2 separate regions of the Homo sapiens genome follow, and region 1 is linked to region 2. A link means that fine-mapping ties the variant in region 2 to the expression of a gene that starts in the linked region. Tissue or cell type: whole blood. Region 2 holds a variant in brackets; the other region holds the start of a gene. All regions are shown on one strand. Distances are from middle to middle.

Evidence for each region. PIP is the estimated chance that this variant, and not a neighbour inherited with it, causes the effect.
Region 1: it holds the start of SF3A2, and the variant in region 2 is fine-mapped to the expression of SF3A2 in whole blood (TOPMed, PIP 0.98).

Annotation. Positions count from the first base shown.
Region 1 is chr19:2,235,537-2,238,036 of GRCh38, reverse strand. It overlaps SF3A2 (splicing factor 3a subunit 2), which reads right to left and starts at 1,213. Exons shown (of 9, transcript NM_007165.5): 1 at 1,136-1,213. PLEKHJ1 (pleckstrin homology domain containing J1) reads left to right here and starts at 1,708. Exons shown (of 6, transcript NM_018049.3): 1 at 1,708-1,882; 2 at 2,047-2,114; 3 at 2,209-2,275. The coding sequence starts at 1,789. It overlaps MIR6789 (microRNA 6789), which reads left to right and starts at 2,111; the gene lies at 2,111-2,208. RefSeq lists silencers at 928-1,027, 1,638-2,267 and enhancers at 1,448-1,497, 1,076-1,684, 2,293-2,500.
Region 2 is chr19:2,307,573-2,310,325 of GRCh38, reverse strand. It overlaps LINGO3 (leucine rich repeat and Ig domain containing 3), which reads left to right and starts at 2,172. Exons shown (of 2, transcript NM_001101391.3): 1 at 2,172-2,250. The variant G/A (reference allele first, on the strand shown) is at 1,583.

The DNA of each region.
Region 1 (2,500 bases), 72 kb after region 2:
AAACAAACAAAAAACCGATGACGACCAGGGGAAATGAGCTTAAGAATTGAGGAAAAGTGGCCTCTGGGACCTGGGACTAGACCATTGAGAAGGAATTAGTTTTTCGTGGCAACACCGTTCTCTCCTTAACCTAGCCAACAACCTATTTTCCAGAGCTCCGCCTGGCTGTTTGGTGTCGTCCAAGGATACACAAGAACAACGGTCACAGCGGGGTGCACCTGCAAAATGGGGCCAGCTAACGTGTTCTGGTCGCCTTTGGCATGATGTTGAAGCCGTCACTCCCATTTTAAGGGAACTGAGGCTCACAGGAATTACATCACAGAGCCCCAGTCAACTAACAGGTATAGATGAGCATACAGAAGCGTTCTCGGCTACAAGGAAGGCGGCCGAAACCATTTCAGCCGCGATCCCGATTCGACCCCAACGAATCTTGGTTGTTTCTTTTTTATTTTGTCAAACAGGGTCTTGCTCTGTTGTCCAGGCTGGAGTGCAACGGCACAATCACAACTCACTGCAGCCTCGACCTCCTGGACTCAAGCGATCTTCCCGCTTCAGCCTCCAGAGTAGCTGGGACTACAGGCGCGCGTCACCAACCACGCCCGGCTAATTTTTTTTTTTTTTTTTTTTGCAGTGATGGGGTCTCGCTATGTTGCCCAGGCTGGAGTGCAGTGGTGGGATCATGGCTCACTGCAGCCTCGACATTCCGAGCTCAAGCGATCCTCTCGAGTAGCTGGGCCTACAGGTACAACCACCACTCCTGGCTAATTTTTTAAAATTTTTTGTAGAGATGGGGGTCTCGGTGTGTTGTCCAGGCTGGTCTCGAACTCCTGGCCTCAAGCGATCCTCCCGCCAAGGCCTCCCTGAGCAGTGAGATTACAGGCGTGAGGCCCCGCGCGCGGCCTCCCAACAGGAGTTTGGAAATAGAGTTCCTGGCGGGCCCGACCCTCCAGGCCCGCCCAGCGCGGGGCCTCAGGATGCACAAGGCCGGACGCTCACGGGAGGAGGGAGGGGAGCGACGCCGCCGCCCCACCCTCGGCCCGCGGCCTGTCGCAAGCGCCTCTCTCCTACGTCCGCTGTCCCCCAGGGAACCCCCGGTCCGCGTCGGCCGCCGCCCTCAACCGCCTCTACTCCTCACCAGAGCCCAAGGCCGCGTTATCTCCTCCTCGTTTCGCCACCTCCACGACTTCGTTTGGCGAACGGCGGGCAAAGAAAGCACTTCCGGGGCAAATGAGACGGGCCCTCTGGTGTGCGCATGCCTGGCCCGCCCAGCGGCGTGAGTCAGAGGGTCCCGAGGCGCGAAGGAAAAGGCTGGAGGGGGAGAGGCTGAAAGCGCGGCCTGGAAGGCAAACTGCGCGTGCGCACAACGCTCTCAACGAACCCTCGGTCCGCTGCGGCCGCACGGGGCCAACTTTCGCGAGGGAGCGGCTGACACTCTCCGGGCGACGTTATCGCTCCCTCCGCCTGCGCCTGGCCGCTCTAGAAAGGGGTGCCAGCCATCGCTGGGGTGCCTTGATTCTGTTCCACCTTGGTCCGGTTTATTTCAGTTTAATGGTTATGTAACAACGGTCCGTCTCTCCTACCAACCGGTACCCCGCCCACGCCAGCAGCCACGGGTCGCCAGCGCCACGCAGCGGAGGCGGGCGGCATGGCTGGCCCAAGGTGCGCAGGCGCACTAGCCCTGGGGGTGCTTCCGTGTCTGCGCCCTGAGACATTTTTGGCGCCGGCCCCAGCCTGAGCGGGGACGGCGGCCGGGAGGGCGCGGCCCGGGTTCCCGTTCCCCGCGGAGCCATGCGGTACAACGAGAAGGAGCTGCAGGCTCTGTCCCGGCAGCCGGCCGAGATGGCGGCCGAGCTGGGCATGAGGGGCCCCAAGAAGGGCAGCGGTGAGCGGGACCCGGGAGACCGAGACAGTGCCAGGGGCGGGAGGCCGGGGCCGGGGTCTGGGCGGGGGTGCCGGAGGCCGGAGTCCGGGTCGGGGCGCCGGGGACGGGAGGCCGGGGTCCGGGCGGGGGCTGCCTGCGCCCCTGAGTGCGCGCTGTGCCCGCAGTGCTGAAGCGGCGGCTGGTGAAGCTGGTGGTGAATTTCCTCTTCTACTTTCGGACAGACGAGGCCGAGGTAGGGGCGTCCCGGGCGCGCGGGCGGGTCCCAGGCTGGGCCCCTCGGAGGCCGGGTGCTCACTGCCCCGTCCCGGCGCCCGTGTCTCCTCCAGCCCGTCGGAGCCCTGCTGCTGGAGCGCTGCAGAGTCGTCCGGGAAGAGCCCGGCACCTTCTCCATCAGTGAGTGGGGCTAGGGAAGCCAGCGGCGCTTCCCGCAGCCCGGGGCACCCGCAGCGCCGCACTTTCCCCTCCCCGGGCGCCCAAGGTCTCCTCTGTGTCCCCAGCCTGGCGCCACCCTCCTCAAACACAAGAGTGCATTGTCCACGGGCAGCTCAAGGTCAAGTTCTCCTGGCGGGCACCACCCTTCCCACCTGCCGAGTCCACTTAAGCTTGGGTCCCTCCCAG
Region 2 (2,753 bases):
ACCCGGTGTCACTACTGCCTCTTCCACGCCGCTTTGTGACGATTTCATATTTCAGGCATCTGCTCCCTCTGTCCGAAGAAATCCCCCTTGAGGCTGGAAGCGTCTCCTCCTCCTCCCTCCAGCCCTTGGCCTGGTATACAGTAGGTGCTCAATGAACACCTTCCTCCAAGAGCCCTGAGAGCCAGCTATCAGGAGCATCACTTTACAGAGAAAGAAACACGTTCAGAGAGAGAAGGAGACCTCCCCTACTGGGGTCACACAGCACAGCAGCCCAGGGCCATTTGGTGGGGAGAGCATGGGGTGTCATGAAGTCCTTCTGGACCTCTCTGGGGCCAGGAATTGAACCATACCCGCCCCCCACAGCATCCTGTGGGGGGCCTGGCCTGCAGCCTCCCAGGGATGCGGTTTCTGGGCCTCCAGCCAACGCGACAGTCTGGGAACAGAGCCTGCTTGAGTCACAGGTGGCTGCGTGAGTGCCAGGCCACCGCCAAAGCCACTGGGAATACACAGCTGGTGGGGAGGACTGCAGAGTGGGTGAAGGGGGCAGACAGGGCAAGGTTACACACACAGGTTCCCGAGGCCTCCTTCTCACCCCTCACTTGGGACAAATGGCATCTCCCAGCCTTGGTTTGCTCATCTGTGAGACAGGGAGGCTAAATGTGGCTTTTAGAAGATGCAGTGAGGGGCCGGGCATAGTAGCTCACGTCTGTCATCCCAGCACTTTGGGAGGCCGAGGCGGGTGGATCACCTGAGGTCAGGAGTTCGAGACCAGCCTGGCCAACATGGTGAAACTCTATCTCCCCTAAAAATACAAAAATTAGCCAGGCATGGTCATGGGCGCCTGTAATCCCAGCTACTTGGGAGACTGAGACAGGAGAATCGCCTGAACCCGGGAGGTGGAAGTTGCAGTGAGCCAAGATTGCACCACTGCACTCCAGAATGGGTGACGAGAGCAAAACTCCATTTCAAAAAAAAAAAAAAAAAAAAAAGACAAAAAAAAAGGTAAAAAACTTTCCATGAGCACTCGCAGTGCACTTGGTGTGTGCGCTGCTGTGTGCTAGGCGGAAGGCACATTGGGGAACAAGCCCATTAGACAAACTGAGAGGCTCCAAGCTGCTCGATGGAGGGACAGAGAGAAAGGCTGTCCAAGCTGGGCACAGCGAAGATCAAAGGCCTGGGACTGGAGGGACTTGGCCTGTTTGAGGAAGGCTGAGGGGGTGGAGCCCGGGAAAGAGTGAGTGAGGACAGGCCAGGGGGAAGGAGGTGGTGCGGCAGACCAAACAGTGCAGGCAGCCGGGCGGTGGCTCACACCTGTCATCCCAGCACTTTGGGAGGCCGAGGTGGGTGGATCACCCGAGGTCAGGGGTTTGAGACCAGCCTGGCCAACATGCTGAAAATCCGTCTCTAATAAAAATACAAAAATTAGCCGGGCGTGGTGGCGGGTGCCTGTAATCCCAGCTACTTGGGAGGCTGAGGCAGGAGAATCGCTTGAACCCAGGAGGCGGAGGTTGCAGTGAGCCAAGATGGCACCGCTGTACTCCAGCCTGGGCAACAGAGCAAGACTCCATCTCAAAAAAAAAAA[G/A]AAAGAAAGAAAGAAAGAAAGAACGAAAGAAAGAGAAATTCCAGGGTAGGTGGGGTGCAGACGGGACCCTCACGGCAATAGGGAATCACGGCAGGTTCTGGAGCCCAGTGGCTAAGCTTCCTCTGAGGGGCTTCCTCTGAGGGCCACATAAGGAATGGGCCTGGGCTGGGCTGTGGCAGATGTCCAGGTGCAGATGGTGGCGGCCTGGACTAGGGGTGGGGGACGGGGGGCAGAGGAGGCGATGGTAGCTTCCAGAAGGTTCCACACGGAACAACCTGCTGCACTTGGGGTGCCCCTGCGTTTATTGCACGGCACGGCCGTCTCCGCAGGCTCACCCAGGCCGTGGGGACAGGAGGTCCTCGGACACGAAGCGCCCGGGATGCGCACGGAGGGGTTCTGCACCCGCGCTCCCAGTGTCCCCGCACCTGCGCCCACGTGGCCTCTCACACCTGCGGCCCCAGCCGCCGCGCACGCGGCCCAGCGCAGCCCCCGCGCGCCCCCGCCAGGCGCGCCGAGGAGACCGGCGGGCGGTTGCGCGCGGCGGCGGCGCGCACGGCGGAGCCCGGGAGGCGGCGGCGGCGGCGGCGGCGGCGGCGGCGGCTGCTCGTGTCGGCTCCGGGCGGCCCCCGCGCCGCAGCCCGCGCCGTGTCCGCGGCGGAGCCGCCCAGGTGAGTGGCCGTGCCGGGGCCCGGCGTGGGGCGCGCCCGCAGACCTGGGGACCCCTCACCTGCACCCTGCGACCCTGCCGCCCAAAGCCCCCAACCCGCGACCCCATCCTCAGCCGGGGGAAATTGCCCCGCGCACCCCTCCCGGGCTCATCGCTCCTTGCCAGGCCCCCGACGCTCCCCCTGGAAACTTTGGGGGCGAACTCCCCACCCTGGGGCCCCCCGCCCCTCCTCTGGGGCGCCAAGGAGCGGGGAATCGGGTGGGCATCTCCCCGGGGCACTGGGGACGCTGGGAGGATGCGCTCCTCTCCAGGAGGAGATGAAGGGGGCACTGGTTGGGTCTGGGGTGTGGGGAACGTCCGAATAGAGCCTGCAGCCCGCGCCTTCCTGCCCTGTCTCCCCCGAGCCGGGTCTGGTCCAGCCTGGGGGTGCGGAGCTGGAAGACGCAAAGGGTATCTGGGGTCCACACCGGAGCCTGCTCCATCGCTGGAGCTGACGGCCCGGCC